2 separate regions of the Homo sapiens genome follow, and region 2 is linked to region 1. The links come from fine-mapping of genetic effects on gene expression. Tissue or cell type: whole blood. Region 1 holds a variant in brackets; the other region holds the start of a gene. All regions are shown on one strand. Distances are from middle to middle.

Region 1 (8,110 bases):
GAAGAACATGTTTACTTATTCCTGGATTCAGGTCATGTTAGCGAACAAGGATTAATGGCACATCCAATTAAGGTGAGCACTAGGGATTGCACGTGAAGCATTGCTCTGACAATTACTGGCCACAGCATCTCAGCATCTCAGCTTGCCCAGGGAAGGCACTGAACAGTCCATTCTTTCCAATGAGAGAAAACCACACTTGTTATTTAACTAGGACTCTATCTGGTAATGCAGAATTTTTTATTGCTCTTTATTAGCCTCTTGTAAGATACTACACAAATTTAAGAACTCTGAAAATTATGTGTCCGTCAGAGCATTTATTTATGCCATGTCTGTAATCTCCAAAGGGGTGCTCCTTAGTCATGCATGTGTCATGCCATGCGATTCTATGTATCCATTCAGATGTTATTGGATAAGGGTGGACAAGTGAACCAAAGGAAATCATTGACATAGCAGAAAAGGTGACAAGACAATGCAATTTCCTTTCTCTCGAACACGAACTGAGAGGGAAGGCAGTTAATGGGTGGAAGTGGAGCAAAATTTATAGGTTGTAAGGTAGGAAAGAGTGGAGAGACTATGAAGGGCCACTTGCAACCCAAAGATATGAACAATCAGAAACTACAAGAAAGCAGATGCAATGTTGTTGAAAGTGTGGTATATGAACATTAGTTTTGGTCTGTTAACTGTTAGTTACCAGTCTGCAATAAGCAAAGAAAAAGAGAAGAAGCTAAGCTTTTAGACTGCATAAAAGTTTAACATTGCTGTGACATCCAAATGCATGGTTTTGTGTTTTATAAAAGTACTGGCCTATGATGGATTGAGATGTGGGGGAAGGATGTTCCTTTACTGTATATAATTTGAGAAGCACTGGATTAGAAGATGATGGAGTAGTGGATCGTGGTATAAGAAGAAGGAACCACTTAGAGAAGTGCAGAGTCATATTAATGACTGAGTTTTAACGAAGATTTGTGAATGGCTGTTGCTGAAGCCCTTAGAACTGCCTTGATCCTCAAACCATCCCACCATCTTATCCTATTTTTCTTGGGGTCTAGTTCACGAACTTTTCTGTAATTTGAGTGAGTTTCTGTTCCTTGTAACTAAATAACCAAAGAATATAAATGGAAGAAAAAAAAGAAACATTTACAAAGTTGTGCTGGGGGTTCTAACTTACTGTACCATAGGATCGAGGAATGTCTTTACATATTTTTTGGGTATATTAGGTTGTCATATCATTTTAAATTAGAAGTGTGTGAAGGAAACATCAGAATGAAAAAACTACTAAAAAATAGGATAAAAAATTTGCCAATCATGTATGTGATAAGGGGTTAGTATCTAGACTATATAAGGAACTTTTACAACTCAACAACAACAAAACAAATAGCCTGACTTAAAAATAGGCAAAGGATATGAATAGACAATTCTCTAAAGAAGATATACAAATATTTAACAAGCATATGAAAAGATGCTCAACATCACTAACATAAGAGAAATGCAAACCAGGACCATAACAAGATATTACCTCACACCCGTTAAGATGGCCACTATCAAAAAAATAGAAAATAAAAAATGTTGCTGAGGATGCAGAGAAGTTGGAATCCTTGTGCCCTGTTGGTGGGTATGTAAAATAGAGAAGACATTATGGAAAGCAGTATAGAGGTTCTTTAAAACATTAAAAATAGAATTACCATAGATACAGCAACTATACTCTGGATATATATCCAAAAGAATTCAAAGCAAGAACTTGAAGAGATGTTTAAACAGCCATTTTACTTACATCACCATAGCCAAGAGATGGAAGTAACGCAAATGTTTATCAACAGATGAATGGATTAAAAAATGTAATATGTACATACAATGGAATGTTGTGCAGCCTTAAAAAGGAAGGAAATTCTAAAATATGTTATAAACAGTGATGAATCTCAAAGACATTGTGTGAAGCAAAATATACCAGTCACAAAAGGACAAATACTGTATGAATCTACTTACATGAGGTACATAAAGAAGTCAAGATCACAGAAGCAGAAAGTAGAAAGGTCATTGCAAAAGGCTTGGGAAGTGGGAGAGAAAATTAGTGTTAAGTGGATATAGGGTTTTAGTTTTGCAAGATAAAAAAGTTCTTGAGATCTGCTGCACAACATTGGGAATACACTTAATATTACTGAAGTGTACACTTAAAAATGGTTGAAATGGTAAGTTTTATATATATTTTTTACTGCAATAAAAGAAAGAGTCTGGGCATGGCAGTTCACATCTGTAATCCCACTTGAGGCCAGGAGTTTGAGAACAACCTAGGCAATATAGCAAAACTTCATCTATTTTAAAAATTAAGAAAGAATTAGCTGGGCATGGTTGCATGTGCTTGTCCTAGGCACTTGGGGGGCTTAGGTGGGAGGGTTGCTTGAGGCCAGGATATCAAGGTTGGAGTGAGCCCTGATGGGGGCCAGGCAGAGCAAGACCCTGTAAAAGAAACAGAAAGAAAGAAAGAAGGAAGGAAGGAAGGAAGGAAGGAAGGAAAGGAAGGAAGGTAGGAAGGAAAAATAAATGGGGGAAGAAAAGGAGGGAAAGAAAGGAAGAAAAGAAGGAAACTGGTGGCACAGTCATTCAGCTATTCAGGGCATATCATCAGTTTGTACTTGATCTTACCCTGAGACTGACCCCTGGAGCATCTGTGTTCCCTGGGAATATTGTAAAACTGAACAAAATATATAGCTAGGGATCCCAATCATTCTGCTGAGATTTTTTTTTCTTTGCTAGCCTTAGTAAAAAATTGAATGCTTGGGGGTCTAGGAGTTTTTCCCAGTCTGAGACACAGAGGTGGGAGACACTGAGGAGCTCCGAGGAGCTGTCATGAAGGCATCTGATACCACAGGGTTATTCGTCACTGTGTAGCAGGTCGGTCCCAACTGTGGGGAGCCCACACAGAAGGTAGGCAATGTGTTTGACCAATGGCATGGTGGGATGGTTTGGAATGGTTCAACATGGCAGAAAGGAGTGATTAAAAAGATAATCAAGAGAGATAGTAAACACAACATCTGAAGCAGAGGGAAGCCAGGATGCAGGTGGCATCTGAAATTACTGATTGATAAGGCAATTCCATACTTCTTCCCTTCTTTGAACTAAAAAATCTGGGATATTTATAGATACCTGAGAAGGAAGAAGGGCTG[A/T]CATCCTGTTAATTTTTAGGCACTGCTCTCAATCTGTTGGATCCACAATGTTTTTTAATTCAAGAACCACCTGAGTTACCATTACAATTTGTTTTGGGGGACAATGAAATATGTAGACTCAGCCAGAAAGAAGGGGGTTAGGGGACTCTTAGCTGTGGGTATGTGGATAAAGTTAAGAAGGTGAACTGAGAAATCAAACAATTGAGAACGACAGATGCCAGACTCAAGAGCATGAATTTATCCTATAGGCCATGAGGAGCCAATGAAGATTGCCATGTAGTGTAATGACATAGGGGAAGAAAGATTATACAATATAGATTTAGATTTGATCCATGTGTGCAGGATGGCTTGGGGTTCATGCCAGAGGATCTGGCATAAAACCTTGTCTAACTAATGGGGGCCTTGATCATAGATGTGAAAGAAGAATGCTAAAGAGTAGATGTGAGGGACATGAAGAAAACAAATGTTAGTAAGATTGGGGACAGATTGGATGTCTAATTAGATGACTTACTCACTTTAATCTCTTGTATTAACTTTAATTGTTAGATACAACATATATTAAGCTACAATTCTATTAGTTAGTACGCAGAGTGAGTTAAATAGGCCATCACACATCTTTCAAGAGTTTCTAATTCAGAATAGGCAATCATAGTTTTAAAAAGCACACAAAACAAATTATGTAAGAAAATTAATGATTAGGAAGAGTCACCTTAAAATAGTGTACATTCTGAGTTACAATACATTTTAAAGGAAATGCAGTTTTATTGATTTCAAGTTTATATAGAACTAGGAGTTCTAGGTTAATATTAAGTAGAAGAAGTTCTGTTTTATTAACAGATAACATTTTAAAAATTAATATTAGTATTAATAGGTAAAATTTTTCAAAATAATTTTTAATCATAAAATTTGTCCTATCCATTTAAAAGTTTGGGATAAATTTGGTCAGAATTTAAGAAGTTCTTTAAAATATGTAATTATATTTGATACAAGTGTAAGATAATTTAGAAACCCAGAGAATAATATAAAATTCTGGGACTAGGATATTAACATTTCTAATGGTCTACCAAACCATCTGGGCAGCAATTCTAGAGGAGGAATTCAAGGAGTTGTTTCTGGAGTAGAAGAAGAAAAGTACTTGTAGGTTTGAGCCCGTGCCTCCTATATATTTGTTATGGACTGAAATGCAACCCCACAAAATTCATATGTTGAAGCCCTGACTCAGTATGTATTTGGAAATAGGGCTTTTAAGAGAGTAATTAAGATTAAATTAGATCATAGGTATGGGCACTAATCCAGTAGGATTGATGTCTTTATAAGAAGAGAGAGGGACACCAGAGCTCTCTCTCTTTCTGTGAGTGCACAGAGGAAAGGCCACCTGAGAGCATGGTGAAAATGTAGCCGTCTCAAAACAGACCAGTTCTGAACAAGATGTTAGTGGTCATTTTGGGATTTTCTCCTCATCTTTGCTAGTTGAAATCTTAGATGGTTGAATTTACATTATAGCTTCATGAATTAATTGAACTTACTTTAATTTAAAAGAATAGTGAAACTGGCTGGTTTTCAAAGCACCTCTGACCTCTAATATGTTCCTCTATCACGTGGACTTGTGTTGTCATAATTAAGATTTTACCACCCAGAATGGTGGGCAACACAGAGATCTGGAATATTTCTTCTTCCGTTTCTTTCTTTCTGTTTCTCTGTCTTGTATGATAGTGACGAGCATGTACTTATGAACTTAAAAGGCATAAGGAAAAATTAATATTCACAGAAGTAGTTGAAGTATACATGCCTTAAAAAATCTGTCATATGGTTTGCAATTGTTTCTTGTATTTATTTTTAAACTTTGCATTAAAGAAGCTGACATTCCTGTGGCCTTGGAACTAGACCCCAGCTTTCCAGGAAAAGTAATTTTTTATGGCAATTAGATGGCTTAGACCAAAGCTTTTAACAACTCAGAGTCTGTCGAACAAGAAGATATTATCTCAATTCCTTTGTTAGAAAAGAAGATTTAAATTTCATTATTACTTCTTATCCATTTGGGAAAATAATGCTTCTGGTAAAAATGCCATTATTGTGTATGTTAACATTTAAGATTTGCACATATAATTCTGTCATAACTCCTCTAAGCCTGATCAAGCCAAAAGATGAGTATTGGGAATTACTATTTAAAGAGGAATCAGTCAGAAAAATGCCTGAGTTACATTTATTCAGATTTTAATCAATTAATTGTTCATTTAATAACTTGCTTATTTATTTTTATTTACTAGGTACCTATATTATACGTAACACTATGGACAAATATAATAAAAATCAAAATGTGACACTACTAGAAATAGCTTACTCTAAGTCAATTTCCTTCCAATAATTTTAGGGCAAATAGATGAATTCTGATATTTTTTGTTAAAATAACTCTTCATTTAAAACTGTTGGTGATTCTAGCCTTCTCTTGAATCTTGTTAGAAAAGGCATATGATTGTGGCTTTGAATTTAATTTTACAAAGTGAGGTTTTCCAGCTTCATAATAAACTACAGACCTCATTTCCAAGGGAATCAGTCATAAAGGATGGAGAGTAAATATTAATGTTCCAGTTCCTAAAATGTCCTTTAGATGTCTCTGTTTCATATCTCATGTGGACCAATACAGCAGGCCACTGGGAAAGACATTGCCTGAAGCTGGCTTCCTGACAAGTTGAATTTGTCCTCAAAGGACAAACGAAGCTCTTTGAAAATAGAATTTGACAAAGTTAATGAAAGAAAAATGTAGATGATGGCATGCAAATATATCATTACTACTTCATAATATTTTTATAACCCAAAAAATCATCTATAAAGGGGAGATGTCCTTTTCTACTTAGCTTGCAGACAATTCTGTTGCATAATATAAATTTAACACTATTTGGTTTTGTAGTGCAATCTGTGTTTTTATTAAAGCATATTCATTCAAGCTGGTCTTGAAAGAATCTTGAATGAACAGTAGAATGAAAGCTAAGATGTGATATTGATAAAAGGGGACTTAAGTAAACATCTAAATAATGTGCATTGATAAACCTTAGCCTTTCTCCCTCTTAACATACAGAAAGTGAGTAGGTGTGGCTTAGGTCCAATGGGCAGTATATTAGGGGATTTCTCTATGGAGTAGTTGATTGGCTAAAGGGAAAAGATCTACATACTCTGAGATTTCTGGGTTTTAATCACCCTACAATGAGGCCCACCAATTCAAATGTTCTGCCACCCAGACAGAGCTACTGATTGGTTATAAATTTGAATAGGTAGACAGGGACCACTAGACATGTGAAGAAAGCATCTCATTTGAAAGTCAGAGCCAAGAGCAAGATGAAAGGAACTCAGAGGAAGTAAAGACAGTGTAGGAACAGAAGAAAAAAATGATAAGATAAATATCCTAGGGAATGCGGGAAATATATTTTACTTCTGAAGCAATAACAGGGAGCTATAAAAATAAAAGAATAAGAAATTCATAAGAAAAATATTTTCAGCAGAAGTAAAAAAATTTAATAGAAATACAAAAGATAAAGTGAAGACTCTTCCAGAAAATTAGAACAAAAAGAGAAAGACATAGCAGATAAGAAAGAAAATATTTTAAAAAAATCAGTCGACCAAATCAGGGTCAAAATGTTTAACTATTATGTTTTCAAGAAAGAGAATAAAAATCAGAGAGAGAGGGGAAAAAATCTTCAAGAAATAATGTAGGAAAACTTGTGAGTATTGAAAGCTTTGAATTTCTAGGTTGACAGCCATCTGAGTGCCCAAAAATGAATGATAGAAAATCTGCATCAACACATAACAACATGAAATTTCAGAACCGTGAGGATAAAAAGACAACCCTAAAAGTAGCCAGGTAGAAATAACAGGTCACATTCAAAAGATGGTACTCAAACAATGGAGAAGTCCCTTCAAACTTGTAAGGAGAAATGAATTACAACCCAGAATTACAAGCTCAGCCAAGCTATCAATCAACTGTGAATGTAGAATGATATTTTCCAATATGTGGGATCTCAAAAAATGTGCATTCTGTTCATATTTCTCAGAACACTATTATGTACTTCATCAGAAAGAGGACCAACAAAAAGAGGAAGCCTCTGCATCCAAGTAAAAGATGCTACATGACAGGAGAGGGATAAAGGGACTATCTAAACGATGGTGCAGGGAAGTCCCAGGATGACAATTGTGTAATGAATCTGAGAACAGTCAGTTCAGGTCAGAAAAATTAGCCCAGAGAACTTCAAGTAGTATGTTTCCAAACTAAACAGAACTGATACTACCCAGTGCTGCACATTTGATCGCTGAAAATTATACTTCCAACAAATCAAAGATAATCAAAATACTATTTTTGTCTTGCATCGTCCCTTTATAATTTTTCAGTGGTGGGATTTTTTTTTTACTATTTTTCTTATGAATAAATTTTCTAGAAGTCTACATAGCCAATGAGCTCACTCCTAGAAGCTATAGAGCCCTGGAGGCAGAAACAGACTAGCTGTTTACCAAGCCTGTTTCTTTTTCTTCTGTTGCACAAACATAGTGTTTCCCAGCTTCTCTTGCAGTTTTGCATGACCACGTAACTGAGTTCTGGACAATGCACATGTAAGAGGAAATGACATGGCACTTCAGGGCCATGGCTCATAACAAATCTTGATACAAGAGGCTTCTTGTTTTTTCTCCTATCAGATTCATGCAGAAATGAACCTAGTGGCTCCAAAAGCTGTATGTTAATGATGGTGGAACCCTAAGGTGGAAAGAGACTGGGTTTCTAAGTCACTGCTTGGCGCTTGCAGCATAGTCAACTGTGAATCAAGAACAGGCATGTCAGGTGGTAAAAAAGTATACTTCTATTGTCCTGCCATCACAGCACATCTAGCAAAACTGTCCTCTGGAGACCTGGAAGGCAAACCATGTTTCTAGTCAGCCTATGGCTTGGGAAAGGGTTTGGAAAG
Region 2 (8,110 bases), 290 kb after region 1:
AAAGTTTCCTGCCTGGTGGTGACTAAAGTTACCCTGAAGCAAACAAAATTGGACTAAGACATACTGTCTGGGGGTCCACGCTTCTTTCCTTATGAATTCAGTTTTAGAAACAGTGGAGAATGGCTGCCAATTTAAAGGCACCAGAGAGTAGGAATGTGTATTCAAGCCAGACTGTCTGAGTTCAAATCCTTGCTGGGTCAGTCAATTTCCATGTGATCTTAGGCAAGCTGTATAATTCTTTGGGCCTTGGTTTTCCCATTTGTAAAATGGAGATAATAATAGTTTATATCTCATAGCTTTGCTGTGAGGATTTAATAAGTTAACATTTGTGTTTAGCACAGCACTGGAGAAATAGCAGATTGGAGGAACTACAGAAGTCCTAACTAATACTGTTGTGGTTCTGAAAAAGCAGCAACTTGAGGAGCTCTTGAAAACCTAAATAGTATTTAAGGCCAAGAGTATCTGTCTATTGTCAGGATCACCAGAAAAAAATGTGAGAAGCAACTTCGAGGTAATGCTGCATTTCAGCATGCTTTACCCCGAATGGAAATGTAGAGAACCCAGGCAGGCCATGTTTTCCAAAGAGCAGGGGATCAACTTGTTCTTGATGGGAGGTTTAAATCTTAGTAAAACCATAAATAAGGCCACAGTCATGGACTTTGAACACTAAATCAGATGAAATAACTTGTAACTTCTTCCATGTAATCACAAAAGCTAGAAAATAAATTATTAGTAATTTATTTTAAAGATGATTGCCCAATTGACATTGTTTTTGAAAAAAGATATTAAAAATTTATTAAACTATAATTTTATTGTTAATTATTTGAATTCAGGAAGATTATTATGGTCACTTCTATGAGATTTAGTTAATCTCCACTTCTTTCTACCCTGTAATTTTATTAGTTATCTTAAGACAGTTTCAAATTATTTCATCAATCTTCATCTTTGCTTTTAATTTATGCAGCAGAATTTACTTGTTCATTGGTATGAGTAATTTTCAATATTTTGCCAAACAGCCTGTGGCAACTGAAAACACAAGTTGCATACATTAGACTTTTCTTTTTGAGTGCAATGCAACAAAAACAAATTATGTTGCAAACCCAACTTCATTGAACTGCAGGCACTCATAACTAATTAAAAATACTTTTAAAACATCTGTATTTATGAAAACAAATTTGACCAACATATTTGGGAGGCAAATAGTAGAGCAAAGCATATCTTATGACTATAATAATTTTTAGTTGTACTTTACTGTTATTTATGTTTTTTATCTCCCTACTCTGACAAAATGCTTTATATATCATTTAGTCCATCTTGTTCTAGAACCTACTATAGTTGAAACCCAATAAACAGTTGTAGACCAATTTTCTTACTGTTATATACTCAGATTATGCCTTAAGTTCACCCTACAAGTAAACTTTCCGTCAATTTCATAGTGTTGTGAAAACTCTCTAGTAGCTCAGAACGTTCTTGGTGGTCTCAATATATTAAAAGTATGCAGTCAGATACTGATGGCCCTGAGTCCTGCAGACAGCTAACAAAGCTGAAGCCCACAGGCTAGTGAGCACCAGCTGAGAGCACTTTCTATAGAGTTTGTGGGCAGTCCAAGAGAGACAGGATCTGAGATGTGATGATATGTCCTCTGGCAGCAGCAATATCTGATATTGAGCTCTGCTAGGTGGTGCTGAGCGTGGACACCTGCTTCCTTCACCGGCTGCAGAGAACACAGTATCCATTAAAGGAGCTGAAAGAGGTGCTAGAGGAGTTTACATGGCAGGAGTCCAGGAAGCTCTGCAACAGTCCAAAATGAGGTTGGGACACATGATACACTTGTTCATCCCTATTCTCTATCTTCACACATATGCATATCAGTCCTTCCGTGGCTGCTATATTCTTGTGGTGAGATCCAAACCAGCTGCAGTCTTGCTCTCCCAGTGCATGCTCATTCTGCAAATCAGAGCTTCAATGTATTGCTATGAAAAATTCTGACTGGTCTTGAAATCCATTGACACCATCACAAGAAAATTCAACATGACATCGTCATGAACAGAAATGGATGATGGCTTCATATTCTTAAATATAATTTCCAACTATGGTGAAATTTTGAATGGTTGTAAAAACTGTTTTTGCATTTTTATACCTCACTTATTTTGTTAATGGAGACTATCTAGAGTTTGATGTAATTCTCATCAAAAAGTCCATCAGTAATTATTTCAAATATAAAACTGATATCAAAAAATTGAGTTAATGAAAATAAACTCAAATTTTTCATAAAAATATGAAATTATATTATACGGAACTTTATGTACATGGAAAGTGAATAATTTCTATTATTTTTCTATTTGATATTTATCATATTTATGTAATTAAAAACATAATTAAATTTTAAACTAAATTAAACTGCGCTCCAGGAAGACATCATTTTCTCTGAACCATGACTCTGAAAATTTGGAAAGCACCGTACAAGAGGGATTTTCAGTGATTCACAAGAGTGCAAGATTCTGCAAAGTACTTTCAAAACTAAGCGTGAGATCTTTGCTACTGCCTTTATGGCATGCAAATCACTCAGCCTCAACTCAGTTCCTTCCTCCAATGTAAAAATACTACAAGAACAACATCTCACGCTTCCATCAAATGGGACCATGTGTGATATTTTACACTGGACTACACAATAGGCTGGAAAAGTGATCCGCAGAGAGGCTCATTGCTCTAAGTTCACTCCCTGTACCAACTGTCTTGCACAAAGCTGCCACCCGGGTGTCTTCTTCCAACATTTCCCCTAGTTGGACTTCAAAGTTTCCTTCTTGCAGCCTGTGCGGGGACCAAGAGGCCGGTCTAGAGTAGCCGCCCAGCATCCAGATCCGACATCCTTTTCCCTTTCCTCAGGAAGACTTGGATGCGCGCCAGCCCAGCCCGGGTCTCCAGGTTCAGCTGCGGAAGCTTCCCACATGGTGCCCGTCGCTTGGGATGCGGCTATCCTTGTGCCTTCTCTGCAGGTGTCCCGGCAGGTAGAGGAGGAGACCGGTGGCTGGTGTTCCTGCAGGGCGGGGCTGGGGCTCCTCGATGTCCTTGCGCTTGCCCTGCAAGTTCTGCGCCCCAGGCCCCGGCAGGGACGGAAACAGGCCGGGAAGCAGTGACACCTGGGGCAGTCAGTCATCCAGGAGCCGCCGCCACCCGCCCCACCCCCAGTCTCCGCGGGAGGTGTTTGTCTTCGCCTATGCTCCCGGCTCTTTCTCTTTCACTTTTCTTTTCGCCAGGGGTTGGGACTCCGGGTGGCAGGCGCCCGGGGGAATCCCAGCTGACTCGCTCACTGCCTTCGAAGTCCGGCGCCCCCCGGGAGGGAACTGGGTGGCCGCACCCTCCCGGCTGCGGTGGCTGTCGCCCCCCACCCTGCAGCCAGGACTCGATGGAGGTACAGAGCTCGGCTTCTTTGCCTTGGGAGGGGAGTGGTGGTGGTTGAAAGGGCGATGGAATTTTCCCCGAAAGCCTACGCCCAGGGCCCCTCCCAGCTCCAGCGTTACCCTCCGGTCTATCCTACTGGCCGAGCTGCCCCGCCTTCTCATGGGGAAAACTTAGCCGCAACTTCAATTTTTGGTTTTTCCTTTAATGACACTTCTGAGGCTCTCCTAGCCATCCTCCCGCTTCCGGAGGAGCGCAGATCGCAGGTCCCTTTGCCCCTGGCGTGCGACTCCCTACTGCGCTGCGCTCTTACGGCGTTCCAGGCTGCTGGCTAGCGCAAGGCGGGCCGGGCACCCCGCGCTCCGCTGGGAGGGTGAGGGACGCGCGTCTGGCGGCCCCAGCCAAGCTGCGGGTTTCTGAGAAGACGCTGTCCCGCAGCCCTGAGGGCTGAGTTCTGCACCCAGTCAAGCTCAGGAAGGCCAAGAAAAGGTACCGCAGCTCCCCACTTCCTAACTGCTCCCGTCCCAAACTCATTGTGGGCCGGTGCAGATGTCTGTGCGTGCGCGTCTATCCCTACCTTTGCAAAATCAAATTATCGCCCTCTTCTTTGCTTGCACACGTCTTCTGGGAGAGAAATTTGCAGGAATGGTCAGTGCTTGGCAGTCAGGCCTGGGTCTGTATTGGTTCCAACTCTGCGCCAGCCAGTTATCTCTTAGAGAAGCGATAGTGTATCTAGAATGTCGAAGGAACTTGGAAAAAATACGAGCGAATTTCACTGAAATAAAATCATTATTCAAGGTGGCTTTTAAATGAAAATCCAGCCAATTTTTTCAAGTGTTATTAAGACCGCATGTAGCAAGGGTATATAGTTCATTTGACTTTATGTAATTCCATGCATTAAAAACTATGTTGACTTCAAAGTATGTCTAAACCAAACTAATTCTTAAATGATGCTTACAACAGATTCTTAAATAGGATGAGTCAGCAATTTCAAAACTGGAAGTAAAGTGGTGGTCACCAGCTAGTTTCCATTATATATTTTTAAACTACTATCTAATATTATGATACTGGTGGTGGCCAACTAAGTGGACGTCATCCTTATCTTGTCAGTGTGGTGAAAGAGGCCATATTAGCTAGGCTGAATTTTTGCTCAGGTATTACAGAATAAACTGGTGATTATGCATCCTGCCATGTAGAGGTTATAAGGTGAACCATTCTACTGAAAGCATCAAGATACAATACACTTTTGGAAGGCCGAGGCGAGAGGATAGCTTGAGACCAGGAGTTCCAGTTTATAGTGAGCTATATGATCTGCCACTGCACTCCAGCCTGTCAAAAAATAAATAAATGAATAAAAAAGATATAATACAGGTTAAATTTTTAAACTCCTGTTGTTTTCGTGTGAAGTAATGTGGCCAACAGAGCAAGGAAATACATGGGAAGGAACATAAAGACATATAAAGAGAAGAACTGAAAATACAGCAAAAGCCATTTAGATTTAAAAAGTGAAGAAAAAGCTAGTTTTGCTTAAAGTTAACAAGTATCATAGAGATCTTAAGGTTTGTTATGATTGTCTTAGTTTCGGGTCCTTATTCGTGTAAAATTCTCACAGAATTTTAGTCAATCAGAAAAGTCTCTCCTGCAGTATCATCTGCTTTGCAACAGTGACAGAGAAGGGTCAGTTGACCATTGGTCTGGAACTTCTGATAGGCAGGGTGTTCCCATACTTTTGGTTTCACTGTTCCTTGCTGATTTGGAGTGGCAACTCCAGAACCTGATTGGAAGCTATAGTTCTGGTTGGAATTTTCCTGCAGACTACTGGTGATTAAAATGATGCTCTTTTGTTTTAATCCATGAAATTAATGTAGCCAATGTCAACAGCTATATTGCAAGGCACAATGTTTATAAATTTCCTTGGGGGATGGAGAAAACAGTGGTTTAAGGTTTATCGAAATAGATTTTGGAAGTGGAAGGTTTTAAAGCCTACGGGATACTCCATCTCAGATTTGCTGCCTCTGATGAATTTCAGGACAGCTAGAAGAGCAGCCCTGAAATGCTGGGTACATGTGGATTTTTCTCAGGAAAATATCCGTAACTTTGATCAGCTTTTTAAATGGGTCTCTGACCCAAAAGAGTTTTAAATCTTTTGAAAATATAGACTACTGTCCTTTTCCCCTCATCTCTCCTGGAGTTTAATGTTGAGTTCTGCTCATTGTGTTAACTATTTTTCTGAAGGTTAGCTGATCATAATACAGAGTTCTGTCTTCAGACCTATAACTTAAGTTATGAGAAACAGTATGAATAATAACTAACATTGTTGAGTTCTTATTATGTATCAGACATTGTTCTAAGGATGTATTTTTTAAAAACATCGTAATAAACTTATGTGGTAGGCAATATATTTTACAGCTGAGGAAATTATCAAGGTCACAGAGCTAGAAAGTGGTAGAGTTGGAATTCCAACTGAGACAAGTTTAAGACTGGTGGTATTTATGGAGGATGGTATTATTTGCATACAAATATTTCGTACAATTTGACAGTGATAATCCCTACTTATTTTCAGGCAGCGTTGTAATGGTAGAATGCCGGTTTTAAAGTAATGTTTGTATGGTACTTGTGCAATTGACATTATTATATATTTAAAGATTATCTTTATAATCAAATAATATTCATTTGAGTGTCAAATATGTGTTTGGTATATTGGAGAAATTTCCTTTATGGTCCCTGAATGAAAACATTTGTCTAATCTGCATCACTTTCTGCTGAAAGAGCCTGACAAATAGTAGGCAAATGTGGATTGATCTAGATATCTGTCTCTGCCTATCTATGTATCCCTTCTTCCATACAACTAGAAGTCTGGGATTCATGGAGAGGTCAGAGAAGAAGAGTTTCCCATAATATCCCAACTGGAGATGATATAGTTAACTATTTGGGACATCCTCTCTTCAGAAGGCATTATGGTAGAAGGTTTGGCAAGAAGCCACTTCTTTTGCTCGATATTAGCTCTTTGATTTACTTACCCGTTGATTACAGTAACTGCATGAGACTACTGACACTGAACATTGCTTAAATACTTGCTGCTGTCCTATAGGAATGGGTTGGATGGAAAAATTCCATAGAGGAGTTGAAGGAAAAATTGTTATTTTAGTGAGTACTGGAATGCACTAACACCTATTTGATGGTAAATTTCACTAATTAAATACTATCAACTATATGTCTATATGTGTGCATATATGACTATATGTGTATATATACTGTGTATGTGCATATATGTGTGTGTATGTATATATTGTACTGTACTATTTGTTAACAGCTGTGGGCAGACAAGGTTTACTTTTTACTCAGCTTCCAGACTGTATTGAATATATAAACATAAGAAGCTAAGAAATCTTGACAGAAAGCCTGAAGGACAAATTATTGTTATTAACAGTGCCATTCCAGTAGGAACCTAATGTGAATTTGAAAGTTTCAAAGAGGAAGCCTCTGCTATGTTTCAGCCACCATACTGGCACTTCATCTGTATGTCCTCATTGAATTTGAATAACCATTGCATTTTTATCCTGAATTTACAAAGAAAAAAAAAAAAAGACATGCAGAGTTTTGCTTGCATTAGGACACAACTAGGTAAGACAGACACTCCACTGAGATTTATCTTGATTCTAATGTTAATGCTCCTTTTCGGATATCATATGCATTCTCTTCTAAGAAAACTCAGGTGTTCAGTGTACTGACAACTAAAATGCTGCTATCCTTACCTTGAAATAGACCCTGGTCACCATTTGGGGTGATTTAATGCTATTTATGAATTTGCCTATGTCAAAGAATATTGCCCTTTTTTAAACAAACAAAAAAAAAAGTTGTTTAGTGCTGGAGTCAGAAAGAGGAGAAAAAGAGGCTCTTTAATCTCAGTTTAGTTCAATAATATTATTTGTCCACATTTCACATCCAGAGCCAGGGTATTTGTATGCATTTATTTTATAGTGTTTCATCCCACTGCAGGGGCAGAAGACTCTATGTAGACCGTATAAAAATGGATTTTTAAAAAGTCTGCATGTAATACACAGTTGTTTCTTCTCTAAATGCTAATAGTTCCTCCAAGTGCTGACAGGGTGCAGACAAAATCAGGAAAGTGACAAATTATTTTGTGAAATGAGGGAATTGAAACTGAAAATGGTTGTAGAACAGGAAAATATGATGGTTGTAAGGTTGATGGCGGTGGTGGTGGGGGTAAGCTCTGCTTATCATTGTGACACACGAAAGGAGCCCAGAGAGGGTCTTTGGTCCCTTATATCACTGAATGCTACTTCTCCTTCCTGGGTATTTTGCTTATGTGCCTTCTAATAGAAATCTGACAAAGTAGTCCTTGCACACTGTTAGCACTGACCTCTAAAATTATCAAATGATTTTTTCTTAATTGAACATTTTACTGTTAAAGATTTTCTATTTTCCTGACTCATCTGCAACAAAAATAAGTACATAAAACTTGATTTTTTATTTGAAGGATTTTCGTTGTGAAAATTATTCTAGCTTATGTTATTTAAAACACTATCATTATAAAATTAATCAAAGGAACCATTAATTTTTGATAAGTGATTATTAAGCATAAAACTAAAACATATATACCCAAAGGATTATAAATCATGCTGCTGTAAAGACACATGTTTATTGCAGCACTATTCACAATAGCAAAGACTTGGAACCAACCCAAATG

The links. PIP is the estimated chance that this variant, and not a neighbour inherited with it, causes the effect.
Region 2: it holds the start of IL15, and the variant in region 1 is fine-mapped to the expression of IL15 in whole blood (INTERVAL, PIP 0.98).

The regions. Positions count from the first base shown.
Region 1 is chr4:141,340,577-141,348,686 of GRCh38, forward strand. No RefSeq gene overlaps it. Among named protein-coding and RNA genes, the nearest start is that of LINC02432, 12 kb to the left of the region's middle. The variant A/T (reference allele first, on the strand shown) is at 3,162.
Region 2 is chr4:141,633,337-141,641,446 of GRCh38, forward strand. It overlaps IL15 (interleukin 15), which reads left to right and starts at 3,247. Exons shown (of 8, transcript NM_000585.5): 1 at 3,247-3,412. RefSeq lists an enhancer at 3,160-3,249.